Regions from separate parts of the Homo sapiens genome. Here region 2 is linked to region 1. The links come from fine-mapping of genetic effects on gene expression. A gene starts in region 1. The other region holds a variant in brackets. All regions are shown on one strand. Distances are from middle to middle. Region 1 holds the start of ALOX12B (arachidonate 12-lipoxygenase, 12R type). Region 2 overlaps PIK3R6 (phosphoinositide-3-kinase regulatory subunit 6).

The links. PIP is the estimated chance that this variant, and not a neighbour inherited with it, causes the effect.
Region 2: its variant is fine-mapped to the expression of ALOX12B in stomach (GTEx, PIP 0.97).

Annotation. Positions count from the first base shown.
Region 1 is chr17:8,084,392-8,092,710 of GRCh38, reverse strand. It overlaps ALOX12B (arachidonate 12-lipoxygenase, 12R type), which reads left to right and starts at 4,995. Exons shown (of 15, transcript NM_001139.3): 1 at 4,995-5,415; 2 at 6,491-6,695. The coding sequence starts at 5,269. MIR4314 (microRNA 4314) reads right to left here and starts at 4,655; the gene lies at 4,564-4,655. RefSeq lists an enhancer at 5,219-5,967.
Region 2 is chr17:8,829,586-8,837,908 of GRCh38, reverse strand. It overlaps PIK3R6 (phosphoinositide-3-kinase regulatory subunit 6), which reads left to right. Exons shown (of 20, transcript NM_001010855.4): 5 at 38-106; 6 at 986-1,118; 7 at 1,293-1,362; 8 at 2,453-2,636; 9 at 4,864-5,020; 10 at 8,117-8,203. Among named protein-coding and RNA genes, the nearest start is that of PIK3R6, 34 kb to the left of the region's middle. RefSeq lists enhancers at 277-1,083, 4,609-4,688. The variant C/T (reference allele first, on the strand shown) is at 4,343.

The DNA of each region.
Region 1 (8,319 bases):
TGGTCAGGGAGGGACTCTGAGGAGGTGACACTAGAGTTGAGACCTGGATGACATGAACAACACACGCTTAGGGTCGGGTGCGGTGGCTCACTCCTGTAATCCCAGCACTTTGGGAGGCTGAGACAGGCAAATCGCTTGAGCTCAGGAGTTTGAGACCAGTCCCGGCCACGTGGCAAAATCCCATCTCTACCAAAAGATACAAAAAATTAGCCAGGTGGACTACGCCTGTGGTCCCAGCTACTCGGGAGACCAAGGTGGGAGGATCGCTTGAGCCTGAGAGGTGGAGGTTGCAGTGAGCTGAGATTGCACCACTGCACTCCAGCCTAGGTGACAGAGTGAGACACCGTCTCAAAACAAACAAACAAACAAACAAACAAACAAAACCACTCTTGAAACAGCTTGAACAGCTTGGTTGAAACAGCTTGAACAGCTTGGGGGAAGGGTATTACAAACCCAGGAATGGCAAATGCAAGGGTCCTGAAGGACACATGTTCTGGGTACAGCAAGAAGGCCAGAGTGGCTGGAAAAAGGTGTCGGGAAGGCATGGTCTTGTAGACATGATAAGTCCTTGGATTCGTCTCTTTTCTTTCTTTCTTTCTTTCTTTTTTTTTTTTTTTGAGACGGAGTCTCTCTCTATTGCCCAGGCTGGAGTGCAGTGGCGCTATCTTGGCTTACTGCAATCTCCACCTCCCCTGTTCAAGCGATTCTCCCGTCTCAGCCTCCTGAATAGCTGGGATTACAGGCGCGTGCCACAACGCCCGGCTAATTTTTGTATTTTTAGTAGAGACGGGGTTTTACCATGTTGGTCAGGCTGGTCTTGAACTCCCGACCTCATGATCCGCCTGTGTTGGCCTCCCAAAGTGCTGGGATTATGGGCATGAGCCACCGCGCCTGGCCCTTGGATTCATTTCTACGGACAACCCCATTTTAAGCTCTGGTGAACTTTAAGCAGGGGAGTGGCGTGATTTGATTTTTCTTTCTCTGTGTCTTAGGAGAGTGGGTCCCCAGGAGTTAGTTGCTCCTTGCCTTGCAGGGCTTGGGGTGGGGTCAGGCACGGGGGATACCCCAGCAGTGAGAACTCAGCTTCCTGTGTGGATGGCCCCTAGTTAGCAACCCCAGTGAGTGTGAATCCTTCCCAGAAACCTCTCCTCCTCACTGGCTCCCGCCCCTGGTCCAGGAGAACCAGTTCTTCAGCCCAATGAGCACCTATCAAGAGTCACGCGTCTACGTTTTGGTCATAGCTGGGGAGTGCCCCATCTACATCCTCATGCCTGATCCCGTCCCTGTCCCTGCCCCAGCCACATTGACATCCTCAGCATCCCTGCCTCCATCTCCGTCTCCCTCAGGAACCTAATTCCCACTCCACACTGGAGCCCTGAGCAAACCCAGGGCCACCCTGGGATTTGGGTTGGAGGAGACCTATTGGTAGCAGGATATGACTCAGTTTGCCCAGTCCACTGCCCTGCTTCTCACCAAGCCTCAGCAGCCCCCTGGGGACACAGGGCAAAGGGGAGAGATTAGAAAGAGGAAGCTGGGAGAATTTGCATGGAATTTGCATCTTAAGATTTGCATCTTCAGGCTCCCAGCATCCTCCAAGAGTCATCGAGGTGGTTGAGGAGGGAGATCCCAGGGGGGAGATCCAGCTGGACGGCTTCTGTCTGCAGCCCAGGACAGCCAGCCCTGCCACCCAGAGCTGGGCACAACCCTCATCCTCAGCCTTCTCCCCTCTCCTCCCTCCCTCCCCACCCAACCCCTTTCCCTCCCCTACACCACGCCTTGCCCCTTCTCTCACCCTGAGCCCAAGTCAGCTCTCTTCGGATCTTCACCATAACTCCAAAGCCATCATCGATTCAATCCCCAGCCCTGACCTTGTCCTTGTCATTAACCCATTCAACTATGTTTTCGGTGTCTCCCAGGTACCAAGTATGACACCAGGAGATGGGGACAAAACCAAAAAAAAGTATGGACTAATTTATTAGAGAAAACAGACATCAATCAAAGATGTTAGCTATAGTGCTGTGAGAGCCATGTATAGTGAAATTTGGCTTTCCTGGAAAAAGCAATTATTGAGCTAAGATCAGGAGGAAGAGGAAACGTGACCTCAGTTTGAGAGGTAGAGAGGGAACAGCATGTGCCAAGGCCCTGGGATGGTGACGAGCTGACTTCACTTCCTTCAGGTCTTTACTCAAAAGTCTTCTTCCCAAGGAGCCCTCCTTGGCCACTCTGTATCTAAAATATCCTCCTTTTCTTTTTTCTGAGATGGATTTTCGCTTTTGTTGCCCAGGCTTGATAGCAATGGCATGACCTTGGCTCACTGCAACCTCTGCTTCCTGGGTTCAAGCTATTCTCCTGCCTCAGCCCCCGAGTAGCTGGGATTACAGGCATGCGCCACCATGCCCGGCTAATTTTTATTTTTAGTAGAGACGGGGTTACTCCATGTTGGTCAGGCTGGTCCCGAACTCCTGACCTCAGGTGATCCGCCCACCTCAGCCTCCCAAAGTGCTGGGATTACAGGCATGAGCCACCATGCCCGGCACTCCTCTATTTTTTATATTATCCTTCCCTGTTCTCTCTTTTCTCTTCAGCACTTATCACTATTTAACATACTATTTAATGTATTTGGTTACTAGGTAATATTGTCTGCTTCCCTCACTTGAAGGCAAGCTCCATGGGTGCAGGGGTTTGCTTTGATCGCATTGTATTTTCAGGACCTGACACAGCGCTGAACACACAGTAGGGGTTCGGCCAGTGTCTGTTGATGAATGAATGAAAGGCACGTGGTCCCAGACAGAAGAGAGCAAAGGGGAATGTGAGGGGTGAAGCCAATCAGGCAGGCCGTGGGGGCCACGGGAGGGGATGGTGTCACTGTCCCAAAGGTAAAGAGGAGCCACTGCCAGGCTTGATCAGGGTTGGGAGGAGGGAACATAGAGAGTGATGTGAACAGATTTGGGTCTGGAAAAGATCATTTCAATCCCCAACTCCAGCCACATCTGTGTCTCTAACCTAAACCTGAATTGCAGTTTCGACCCCATTCCACATCCAGTCTGGAACCTACTGGAACCTTCTCTTCATCTCACAATCCCAGCCCCCTCTGACCCTAACTTGGCCTGGGCATTGAATGACCTTCCTTCGATGGTGATGGAAGCGTGCCATCAGGGAGGAAAGCAGGGCTATGCTTCCTGGTTGACAGAAGCTGCTCCTCGGAGGTGAAAGGAAAGAGGACAGGTCCAGAAAAAGGGAATAGGAACGTGCCTGCCTCCTCACTCTCCCTGGGTCCCAAATCCTATCTTTGGAGAGTCTATCTCTGACTCTCTCATAATGCTCTTCACCTTACTCCTAACACCTTCTCCCTATCCTGCGGCTCTGACTTCTGTGATTCTATCAGCAACTAGTTCCCAATCCCAACCTCCCACGCTTATTTTCTTCAGAGCACTTAGTATCCAAAATTATAGTGAACAAATTCTTGTTTACTGTTTCTTTCACTTCTTTCCCAGCTATTCCGTAAGCTCCATGTATGTTTCATTTCTTCTCTGCCTCTGCAGTGCCTAGAACGCCGTGCACCGTGCTCACTACATATCTGAGGGAGGAACGACCTGGTTCCCAACAAACACAGTTCCACTGGAGCTCAGCCCTGCCTCCAGCCCTCTTCCTAGCTTCATTCTTTTTTGGGAGGGAAGTGAGGGTATGTACTTTATGAAATTAAAGGATAACACATAATGAAATGAATGAAGTACCCTAGACGCCCCTCAGATCAAGATAAGAACACCTCCAGCAGCCTATATGGCCTCCCTCTGCCAGGGATACTCACCAGTAGAGGTTGTCTGAGAATTGCTCAGTTTTGCTGGTTCTGGAAGTTCCTATCAATGGATAACAGAACGTATCCCCTTTAATGTCTGGCTCTTTTTGCTCAGTATCATCTTTGTGAGACTCATCCGCATTGCAGTTCATTCTTTTTATTCCTGGGTAGAATTCTATTTTATGATTATACCACAAAATATTGATCATATTAATCCATTATTTAACTTAATTCTTTTGTCTTTTTTTTTTGGAGACGGAGTCTTGCTCTGTTGCCCAGGCTGGAGTGCGGTGGCACGATCTCAACTCACTGCAACTTCCGCCTCCTGAGTTCAAGCGATTCTCCTGCCTCAGCCTCCCAAGTAGCTGGGACTACAGGCGCATGCCACCACGCCTGGCTAATTTTTGTATTTTTAGTAGAGACAAGGTTTCACCATGTTGGCCAGGCTGGTCTCGAACTCTTGAGCTCAGGTGACCCACCTGCCTTGGCTTTCTAAAGTGCTGGGATTACAGGCGTGAGCCACCACGCCCAGCTATTTAACTTAATTCTTATGCCCCAGATTTCACTCTGTCTTCTAATTTAGTTTTTTTTTTTTTTTTTTTGGGCTTCTGATTTTATATCCAACTCCAATCCCTCACCAGTGGATCCTGGCCCCACAGGAAGCAACAGATCCCCTTCTCCTACCCTGATCGTTCCTCCCCGCAGCATCTTCAGGCCTTTGGGCACCCATGTGGTCCCCGAGCCCTAGCTTCAACACCTCCCACCCTTCCAGTCACAGACTCTGGGCCCTGGGGCAGAAGGACAGGCCAGCTTTCTCACTGTGGCCACTACCTGTCCCATTTCCCAGAGAGGAATGGCCTGGAGGCTGGCCAGCTGCGCTGCCACTTAGTGCCCCTCCCCCTCCCCTCCCCCGCCCACCAGTGGCCTCAGAACCAATGCAAGTCACTCACTGCCCATGGCCCTGCTTAGTAGGGGTGCCTGGCACTGTAGCCAATGGGGACTGGCAGGAGGAAGGAGCTTATTAGTCTGATAAAGATCTGGGGACCACACCCTGCCCCCTCCCGCAACTTCCCTAGGGCCCTGGCTCAGGCTGGACTGGCTCCCCCACCCTGAAGGCGCCTTCATCCACGGCATCTTCTATCCGCCCTTTCAGAGGCAGGCCCAGTGCCCTGCCTGCTCTTCCTCCCCACCAGCTCCCAGAAGGCTTGGAGCCCAGACACCTGCTCACTCACCACCAGCTGGGCTCCGCCTGGGCCTGCCCGGCACCCACCCCGGCCACCAAGGGCAGCAGCTTTTCCAGAATTTGGCTGGCAGGCCTAGTCACCCCACCTCGCCACCTCACCACTGCACCTCGGAGGCCAGCCCTGTCCACTCCACTCTGTGCCTGGCTTCTCTTGCCTGCCTTGGGCCTTCGTGTGGCCCCTCCACGGTGTCTGGGACTGAGTGCCCCTCTTGCCTCCTGAAGAGCAGCCATGGCCACCTACAAAGTCAGGGTGGCCACAGGCACCGACCTCTTGTCGGGAACACGGGACTCCATCTCACTGACCATTGTGGGGACACAAGGAGAGAGCCATAAGCAGCTGCTGAACCACTTTGGGAGAGACTTTGCAACTGGGGCGGTAAGAGTGTGTGTGTGTGTGTGTGTGTGTGTGTGTCTGTGTGTGTGTGTGTGTGTGTCTGTGTGTGTCTGTGTGTGTCTGTGTGTCTTTGTGGCCCCGGGAGGGGTGAAGGTGCGCAGGGGGAGCCAGGTGAGCTGAGCTTGGCGAGGAGAGGCTGGAGAGCTGAGGCACAGCTCCGAAGGCAGTGGGCTCCCCAGTGGCTCTACACGCCTTGTCCAGAGCTGGCTTCCAGCCCCTCGCCCATGTCCCAGATCTCTGGGCCATCCTTCTCCATCCTGCTCCTTCATCTCTAACCCTTTCAGGCATTCCTCATCTCCCTCCCCATCCTTTTCTTCTCTCTCCCTCTTCCTCAGCCCTCTCTCCCTGTCTCTGCCTATCCTGCATCTCTCTTTTCTCAATCCTTTCCACCTGCTTTCCTTCCCCTTTGCTCTCCTCCCCTTTCTGTCTTACCCCCTCTCCCGCATCCCTCTCTCTTCCATTCTCAGTCACTCTTCCTAATTCAGCTGCCTCCTAACTGTCTCACATTTGCACTGGATTCTCTGTGACTTAAAATGGCATCAGACCAGCCTGTCCAGTGGAAGGCACGCTTTGCGGGTCCTCAGACCTGATTTTCAGTCAGACCCAGCCACCTGCTGCTAGGCGACCTTAATAGGTCACTCTATCTATGTGGCCATTCTGAATATCTGCATCTTCATTGATGAATGGGAGAAGGGGCTGGCTGGGCCTCTCCCCACTCGAAAACTGTAGAGTGGTACCCAAGTCCCCAGGGGTCTGAAGGGTTCCTGCAACCTCAGGTGCCTGGAGAGGGGAGTGGGAGAAGACAGGAGCTGGGGATGGAGAGAAGGAGGGGCTGGAGTCCTACATAGCCCTGGGTAGAGGAATCCAGTAGGAGACCCCCAAGCTGGAGAAGTCAGAAGGAAGCTCAATGATCAGGTCAATATCCTGTCCCTCCGTCAGTCCAGGGAGGTGAGCATTGCGCAGCATGAGCAGGGCCTAGGTGAGGGGCCAGAGGGGTGGGCGGCCTGGGAGCCGGGGTGAAGTCCTGCCCACTCAGCCAGGCTTGCATCCTGCCTAGGTGGGCCAGTACACCGTGCAGTGCCCTCAGGACCTGGGTGAGCTCATCATCATCCGCCTGCACAAAGAGCGGTACGCCTTCTTCCCCAAGGACCCTTGGTACTGCAACTATGTGCAGATCTGTGCCCCCAACGGCCGTATCTACCACTTCCCCGCCTACCAGTGGATGGATGGCTACGAGACCCTGGCACTCCGGGAGGCCACAGGTAAGCCCTCATCACCCTGCTCCATCCTATGGCCGTGAGGCCTCTAGCTCCAGCCTGCTACCCTGGCATGGCACCCAGGCTCCCATCAAGCCAGAGGGGGGCCCAGCCCCACCAGGGACTCCTGGGCTCTCCTGCCACTGTCACACATTTCCCTCAGTCAGTGCTGCTGCCCTGAGCTCAGCTTGGGGCTGCACATTGGAGGAAGAGAGGTGCCTGAGGCCCAGCAGCTACCCTCAGCATCCCCATCTGGCAGCAGACAGCATTCCCAGAGTGCGCTCCCCGCTACCTCTCCAGTCCTCCCTGACTCCTATAAGATGCCCGGCCACGTTAAAAATACCCCTTGTGATGCTAAGTACAGGCTCAGGACTCTCACAGGAGGCCTATTTATGATGCCAATCATATGCGCTCCAGAAAGACGCCCTGTTACTCCAGCAGGATTCTGTTACTATAACAGGATGCCCCATTATTCCAACCAGCACCTTGCTATCCCATTTAGAAGCCCTTTGAGTTCAACAGGTCTCCGTGGTGCTGCGGTCTTATAATTATGACGCCCTGGCTTTCTTTTTTTGAGACGGAGTTTCACTCTTGTTGCCCAGGCTGGAGTGCAATGGCACGATCTCGGCTCACTGCAACCTCCACCTCCCAGGTTCAAGCGATTCTCCTGCCTCAGCCTCCTGATGCTAGTTTTTGCATTTTTAGTAGAGATGGGGTTTCACTTTGTTGGCCAGGCTGGTCTCAAACTCCTGAACTCAGGTGATCTGCCTGCCTCAGCCTCCCAAAGTGCTGGCATTACAGGCATGAGCCCCAGTTTTCTAATTGAGCATTTTTTAGACTGATGGGATGTTCTATTGCTCCAAAGGACTCCCTATTTTCCCAACAGGACACCATATTTCTCTAACAGGATGCACTGTTACTCCAAAAGGCCCCCCTTAATCCAGTAAGGATCTATCTAATAGGGGCCCTGTTATTCAGATAGACTGTCAGGGTTTCTCCAAGGTTAAGGCTGGCCAAGGCTGCCCAGTGGGTTTTCCACTTGCTTGGTTACTCCCATGGGAGAGACATAGGACCGGAGTGGCTGAGCTCCTTGCACCCACCCCTGCCAGAGCCCCTTGTGTGGTGGGCTGGGGTCAGCTTCCTAATTTGTGGTGCTGCATGAGGACTGGGGGCCTGTCCTCTCTTATCTCCCAGTTCCACCACCTGAGTGTCTGTTGGCTTCCCTTGAGGCGAATGGGAGGGAAAGGCTGAGCTGAGGACACCCAGGGCCCGAAGCCCCATCCTCCCTGCAGCTGACTACCTCTCTTCCGTTTCTCATTGCCCTGTGCTGGAATCTTCCCCCAGGATTGGGGAACAGGGCCTGAGCTGGGGAAAGGAGAGGCGAGGAAAGCCTGGGAGATGGTGAGCATGCCAAGGGGAGGGTCTCACTGGGGACACAGAGCATCTTCCTGCAGTGACAGGTCTGGGTGACATGGAAGCAGGGGACAGGCAGGGTGATGCTGGTGGCCAGGCAGGAATGGGGTTGGGTGGGGCCGCTGCCACGCAACAGGACAGGGAGACTTGAGTCACCCATAGGGCCCTCAAAGGAGTGAGTCTTCCGCCCTGGGGATGAAAACGAGCTAGGTCTCTG
Region 2 (8,323 bases), 750 kb before region 1:
CAGCCCAATACCTGTCACGTGATCTCCTGTTTTCCAGGCGGAAAGCCAGGACCTCCGGCATGTCATCATTCCCTTGCTGCACACTGTAATGTACGTGCTCACCAAGGTGAGCTGGGGACTGAGGTCGAGGTGGTAGTGGTGACCTGCATGTGGCTGGGCTGGACACTCTCCCCTTAGTGGGCACTCAGTCTCCGCCAGGATGAGCCTAGAAAATCCCTTGGATTGCCTGCCCTAAACTGGCTTCTGAGCACTAGCCACCCCCTTTCCCTCCCATATGGAGAGAGAACTCTGGAGAGACAATGGCCTTGAAAGGCAGGATGAGGTCTTTGGGTTTGCTCCTGTGTGCAGTGCAACAGGAGACATCACTGATCCCTACACAGAGAAGAGACATGATACTCATGTGGTTAATGTCTCAGGAGGAGTAATCGGGAGCTGCGTGTTGTTGCAGCGGGTGGGAGTGGTGGTTAAGGCAGGCAGGAAGACCAAGTCTGGGGTTGCTGGAGAGTCCAGGGTCAAGATGGGGCTTAGCTCCGGCAGAGACGGAGGGCACACTGAGGTCGGGAGGGAGAGGGGGGCCTCCCGGGCACTGTGGAGCATTTCAGGCCTGTGGGATGCAAGGAGGAGCAAAGGAGACTGAGGAAGTGCCTCCATGGTTTTGAGCCTGGAGAACCGCAGGAATGTGCTTCCCTGATGGAGCAGGAGGGCTGGGAGGAAGTTGATTTGCTTGCATAACTTGATGCAATGAATTTTTATCTTGGTAAGTTGGGGCGGGGCGACAAATGGATGTCTTACAGGTGCTGGGAGAAGAGGCTGGAAGGTGTGGGTTTGGGAGAGAGCTGTGAGCCCAGGTCTGGCTGTTAGGCCTGACCTTCCACCTCTTCTCCCAAGCCCCTCCCCGGAAACTCCCCCGGGACCCTTCACCTCCCCCTCCTCCCTCTTACCTCCACCTCCTCCCTCTCACCTCCCCCTCCTCCCTCTCACCCAGGCCACAGGAATCACAGAAGAGCTCTACCAGAGAATCTATGCCTTTTGCACAAGGTTACTGACCCTGCCCACCCCCTACTGCACAGTCGCCTTGGACTGCGCGATAAGGCTGAAAACGGAGATGGCTGTCCCAGGTAAGAGTCACTGGGCATCTTTGTCTCCCACGCTGCACCTCCAACATTGCCCAGGGTCTTTCCTTTTTCTCCAGGATACCGGGGAGCTCAAAAGCCTCCACACCTTCTGTAGGAAGGTGGAGAATGGGAGTCAGAGACTTGGGGGCTGTTTGGCCAAAGTGGTCTGGTTTGCAGGGACACTGTACCAAAGGATGGTCATTGCCGAACAGAACTTGACGAATGAGCTGTATCCCTACCAGGAGAGGTGAGTGGCCCCAGAAAAATTGCTACCTTCAGCCTCCTAAAACTGTTGTGGCTTTAGTGACTGCTCCCTGGCAGGAGGACAAAAGAGGAGGCTGGATTAAGAAGAGCCCTAGCAGACCTCCCCAGCCATGATATTTGTCCAGCAGTGGGGTGCGTTTGCCATTCAAGGTTGGCGCCATATTGTTTTCTGGAGACCACTGAACACAGGATAGGTCTTTCTTCTCAGGTTGGATTGGAAGCTACCCTGCTCACATGCAGAAGGTGGACATGGCCTCGGGGCCACTCTGGGGCTCTGTCATTCCACCTCCATCCTGCCCTTGGCCATAATGCAGCATCATACCAGCCAGGCAGCCAGAGGAGACTCCAGAATAGCCATAGCGGAGGGGCTCAGGCGCAAGTGCACAATGAAGCCAGAGGGCTTCCATGGGGGACGCCAAGCCTCTTAGATAAGACTGAGGAAGTGTCCCCTGCTCGTGTTGGGGAGAGGGGTGATGAAGTTGGGAGCGGCACCTCCCTCTTCTGCAGGCACCTCCACTAACTTGGCCCTGAAAGGCACAGCTTGAGTTTGGGGTGTGAGGTGCTGAGTTCATGAAAGATGCAAGGAGGCCCAGGGCACCCATGGGAGAGGTGGGGAGACACAGTGGGTGAGGAGGAGGGAGTAGGGGAGGTTGGCTCTCTGGTGTGATAAGAGTGATGAAAGAAGGTGAGATTCACTCAGAGTTCAGAACTCCAGTTCTGGCAGGAAGGATTTAGGGTCCCTCCTAGAGGGTGACCTGGTCCCTGGGCCAGGATGCTGAGAGAGGGAGCAGGATTGAGGCTGGAACTTTCCTAAACATGGGACTAGGCCTGCTTTCCTCTGTGGACAGTGGATTAGAGCTGCCCCTCTAGAAGGGCTGTGCATGCTCTTATTTGCCACAGTCCTCACCACTCCCTATTGTCATCCCACCCAGAGACTTTTGAATCTGAGACTCCTCTTTTTAGCAGAATTAAATTACTTGGAGGTGCTGCACAGCTCTGAGGGTGCCCATCCGGTGGCCCCTCTCCCATTAGTTACTATCAATCCCACCTCTCCCCTCTGCTTCTGCCCTCAGAGTGTTCCTCTTCGTGGATCCTGAGCTGGTGTCTGCGTCTGTGTGCAGTGCTCTGCTACTGGAGATCGAGGCGGCCCAGGCGCAGCAGACACCAGAGACCTGCATGCGCCACGTGGTCTCCCACGCCCTGCAGGCGGCTCTGGGGGAGGCCTGTCACGCAGGCGCTCTGCACAGGAAGCTGCAGGTAATGGCCCTGCCTGCAGCCCCTTGTCAGTCCCAGCCCTCGTCCCTGCATGCCCATACCAGTCATTCACCCTGCTCTTCCTCCTTCTCCTGTTTCGCATCACCTTTTCCCCCAAATCAAAAATTAATACATTTTGGCTGGGCGCAGTGGCTCACACCTATAACCCCAGCACTTTGGGAGGCTGAGGCGGGTGTATCACCTGAGGTCAGGAGTTCAAGACCAGCCTGGCCAACATGGCGAAATCCAGTCTCTACTAAAGATACAAAAACTAACTGGCCGTGGTGGCGGGCACCTGTAATCCTAGCTACTCTGGAGGCTGAGGCAGGAGAATAGCTTGAACCCGGAAAGTGGAGGTTGCAGTGAGCCAAGATTGTGCCACTGCACTCCAGCCTGGGTGACAGAGAGAGACTCCATTTCCAAAAAAAAAACCAATAATAAGATATAAGATAATGCCAGTATTCCTAGCAGCAGGGTGAATGAGTGTCTCAGCCCCGAAAGCAGGAATCTGGGTCACCACAACAGTAGCTACTACATCATCTCACTCGGAGTCAAAGCCAAAGTGATTGCAATGACCTATAAGAGCCTGGTGTGGTGGTTCATGCCTATAATTGCAGGTACTTGAGAGGCCGAGGCAGGAGGATTGCTTAAGGCCAGGGGTTTGAGACCAGCCTGGGCAACATAGCAAGACCCCATTTCTACAAAAAGTAATAAAAAAAAAAAAATACCAGACGCAGTGACATGTGTTTGCAGTCCCAGCTACTCGGAAGACAAGAGGATCACTTGAGCCAAGTTCAAGGCTGCAGTGAGCTGTGACTGTACCACTGCACTCTAGCCTGGGTAACAGAGAGACACCCCATCTCTAAAAATAAAAATACAAGAACCTCATCTTGAGGGCCTTGACCTGTTCCCATCTCTCTTCATTTCCTCTCTGGCCTGTCTCCTAACTTTCCCTCTCATTTCCTCTGCTCCAGCTAAACAAGCCTCCTCATTTGTCTCCCAACATGCACATGCCTAACATACTTGCACCCCAGGGCCTTTGCGCTGGCTACTCCCTATGCTTGGAACGTTCTCTTAGATACCTGCACGACTCACTCTTTTTTTTTTTTTTTTTTTTTTGAGACGAAGTCTTGCTCTGTTGCCCAGGCTGGAGTGCAGTGGCGTGATCTCGGCTCACTGCAAGCTCCGCCTCCTGGGTTCACGCCATTCTCCTGCCTCAGCCTCTCTGAGTAGCTGGGACTACAGGCGCCGGCCACCACACCCAGCTAATTTTTTCTATTTTTAGTAGAGACGGGGTTTCACCGTGGTCTCCATCTCCTGACCTCGTGATCCACCTACCCCGGCCTTCCAAAGTGCTGAGATTACAAGCGTGAGCCACCGCGCTGGGCTGCATGGCTCACTCTTTCACTTCAAGTCTTTACCTAAAAGTCACTTTCGGCCAAGCGCGGTGGTTCACGCCTGTAATCCCAACACTTTGGGAGGCCAAGGCAGGCAGATCATGAGGTCAGGAGATCGAGACCGTCCTGGCCAACATGGTGAAACCCCGTCTCTACTAAAAATACAAAAATTGGCTGGATGTGGTGGTGCGCACCTGTAGTCCCAGATACTCGGGAGGCTGAGGCAGGAGAATCGCTTGAACCCAGGAGGCAGAGGTTGCAATGAGCCAAAGTCACACCACTGCACTCCAGCCTGGGTGACAGAGCAAGACT[C/T]CGTCTCAAAAAAAAAAAAAAAAAAGTCACTTTCTCAGGGGGGGCTTCCCAGATCACACAATCTCTTTTGTTTGCTGCTGTATCCCAGCCCCTAGAACAACACCTGGTGCAGTGAGCTATTCTAAGTGCTGGAGATGCAGCTATGAATGAAACAGACAAAATTCCCTGTGAATTCCTGGAATTCACAATCTAGTGGGGGCTAGAACATTGATCCAAGTGCTGGGTGACGCTTTCAGGAAGTGGGCGTCAGTGGCTATCTCTGCCTCTCTGGGTAACAGACATTGCAGACCAGTAGTCTCCCCATAATAGCGTGTGAGGGGCAGAGGGGAACCCCCACTTGCAGGGCAGGCATAGGGCCCTGGATGTGGGATCCAGAAGCCTTCGGGGGAAGCTCCTGCCGGGCCCCCAGGGGCAGCGGAGAGGTGTCACCTTGGGCTGCCAGGGCCCTGCGGACTTGGCTTAGGAGCTGGGGTGCGTGGGCGCTGGGCCAAGACCCAGGCTCTGACGCCCCTCCCCAACAGGCCAGCCCTCGCCGCACCCTGGAGCACTATTTCCACGCCGTGGTGGCCGCCTTGGAGCAGATGGCCAGCGAGGCCAGCCCGAGCCGGGAGGGACACGTAGAGAGGCTGGAGGAGATTTACTGCTCGCTGCTGGGTCCCGCGGCGGGGCGCTGCGGTGGTAAGCGACTGGCAGATGGGGGGCCTTGGCAAGAGTCCCGCGGGGGCAGCTCACTGCACAGCAGGGGGCGCCAGAGAGCAGCGCTGGACCTGCCTCTGTCTGGGTGCCTGGCCGACTCCCAGGAGCCTGGGGACTGGGGGCAGCCTGGGGGTTTGGCAGGACCGGGACTAAGAGGCGGGTAATTAGGCTGGGAGCGGTGGCTCACGCCTGTTAACCCAGCATTTTGGGAGGCCGAGGCAGGCGGATCACCTGAGGTCAGGGTTTCGAGACCAGCCTAGGCAACATGGGGAAACCCTCTACTAAAGTAGTAGAGGGTTTAGTCTCAAAAAAAAAAAAAAATCAGCTGGGCGTGGTGGTGGGCACCTGCAGTCCCAGCTACTCGGGATGCTGAGTTAGGAGAATCACTTGAACCAGGGAGGCGGAGGTTGCAGTGAGCCGAGATCACACTACTGTACTCCAGCCTGGGCGACAGAGCGAGACTCCGTCTCAAAAAAAAAAAAAAAAAAAAAAAAAGAAGGTGGGTAATTTGGTCATGATAACCGCCGATGCCCACAGAGCCCCTACTATACTCCAGTTGCTGTTCTAATCACCTTACATATATTTAAATATATTGCGTATACTGTATTAAATCAATGAAACCTCACAGTCAACTTATAAGCAGAAACTATTATTATCCCCATTTTACAGAGGACGAAACTGAGTTAGAAAGAGGTTAAATATCTTGCCCAAGATCACCCAAGGCAGTAAATGGCAAAGCCAAGATACAAATCCAGGCTGTCTAGTTCACTACTCAGCTGCAGTAATCCAAGGATTTGATCGTCCAAGGACCAGAGCATCTAAAAGAGCAGATGAGTCAACATCGTTTATATCTGGTATCATAGATTTTTATTCCTCACCCTTCCTATTTGCATATTTATAAGATAACGCCTTATCTTATGCAAGGCATAATGTAGGTAAGATAATGCCTACCCTGACACAAGCCCCATGTGGATGGGGGCATCTGAAATAGCCCAGAGAAACGTCCCGAATATGTGTTTCCTGGCTGTTGTAGGATGGTTCTGATTTGGGTCCTATTTCGTGGTCATTCAAAGTATCATGGAATATGTCAGCCTGCATGTCCCAGATATGCACAGTCACTGATCGTGCACCTGTCATTATAAGGCATGGGGTTAAGGACTGGAATCCACCGGAAGAGGTTAGTGTGCCAGGCCCTGGGTTTGAACTTGGCAGCCCAGGTTGGGTGGAGGCCACAGCAGTTGGGTGAGGTGGGCAGGATAGTCCCTGCCTAAAGACTCCATCTTCGAAGTTGTCCGCTCTTTTACTTTAACATTCTACACTGCCTCTGATCCCACATGGAAAAAGCTCCTCCTGTACCCCAAGCTGGGACTAACCCTGGGGCCAATCTGGCTTTGCTCCCCTTGTGGCCCCTTGCTAACACTCACCAGTGACTCTGCATGGATTAATTAAGACCATCTGGGCCACCCCCAAGACACATCCAAGGGCACCTGTCTCCTGCCCAGACTTGCCCTGTGCCTTTTTTTTTTTTTTTTTTTTTTTTTTAGACAGGGTCTTGCTCTGTCACCCAGGCTGGAGTGCAGTGGCTCGATCATGGCTCACTGCAGCCTTGACCTCCTGGGCTTAAGCGATCCTCCCACCTCAGCCTTTCGACTAGCTGGGACCACAGGCACGTGCCACCACACCTGGCTAAGCCCTGTGCATCTTTTTTTTTTTTTTTTTTTTTTTGAGACACAATCTTGCTCAGTCACCCAGGCTGGAGTGCAGTGGCTCAATCTCCGCTCACTGCAAGCTCTGCCTCCTGGGTTCACGCCATTCTCCTGCCTCAGCCTCCCGAGTAGCTGGGACTACAGGCGCCTGCCACCATGCCCAGCTAATTTTTTTGTGTTTTTTTAGTAGAGACGGGGTTTCACCGTGTTAGCCAGGATGGTTGCGATCTCCTGACCTCGTGATCCACCCTCCTCGGCGTCCCAAAGTGCTGGGATTACAGGCATGAGCCACCGTGCCCGGCCAAGCCCTGTGCATCTTAATGACCAGGCAGCACCCCCGTCAAGCCCCTGTGGCTGTAGGGGGCAGTATGGAGTGGTGATTATAAGCACAGTGTTGTGGGTAAGAGCAGGAACTCTGGAGCTGAGCTGCCTGGGCTCAAGTCGTCACTGTACTATTTACTATGTGACCTTGGGCCAGTTATTCAACCTCTCTGTGTCCTGGCTTCTCCCCTGTAAATTGAGGATAATAATGTCACCTGTTGCCCAGGGCCATTGGCAGGATCCAGAGAAATGATTACAGTGTGTGCCAGGTGAGTAGAATAAGGCCTGGCAGGCAGTAGGTGCTCAGTGAACACTAGCTGCTCTCCCCTAAGAAGCTTGCAGCCTCATGAGTGGGGAGCCACAGCAATATAGAAGTGAAACGGGAATACGGAGCCAAATCCTAAGACCACATGTGAGGTGTGCCCAGTGTGCAGACAGTCTGCTCGGAGGGAATGACCACCGCGGGCCACTGGAGTGGTCAGAAAAGATTCTAGAAAGAGAAGCAGGAAGAAGGGCTGTCCTTTGTCTCTCCCCTGGACTGCCCGGGGTTCCTGCTGCCCCCAAACTTTGTTGATGAGTTCTCGTCAGCATCGCCGACAGCTGCAAATGTTAACTGAGTGTCTACTGCATGCAAGATATTGGAAGCAGCCCTGAGAAGGGCAGGGGTCTTTCCTGCCTCGTCTGGATGCAGGCAGGGCATTTTAAGAACAGTGGGAAAGCCAGTCTGGCAGCTGCACAGGGCTGAAGGCATGGCCAGCATAGGAGCATAGGTTGGAAAAGGCCTTGTGAGCTGGTTTGTGAAGACCCCCTAAGGGTTGAGCTAGGTTTGAGAAAACGTAGCTACTAAGCATTGTTGGACAGGGAGGGGACAGCTGCACTGTTGGGCCCTGGATGGGCTGGTGGTGGCAGAGATGGAAAGGCAGACCAGATGTGAAGGAGAGAGTCCCTGCCACCTCTCTAAGACCCCGCACAGGAGCTGGGCAGGATGGGGAGGGCAGAGGAGGGTCCCATGGCCTCCTCCATGGCCTCCACAGCCTGCTCCTTTCTGCAGGTGACCTTGTCCAAGAGCGGCCACCAAGCATTCCCCTGCCCAGCCCCTACATCACCTTCCACTTGTGGACCGGTGAGGAGCAGCTCTGTACGTGCCCATGGAGCTGTCTGGAAACAGTGGTATATGTCTGTGTCTGTGTGTGTATGCGTGCATGAGTGTGTGTCAGTGTGCATGCGTGTGTCAGTGTGTGTATGCATGAGTGTGTGT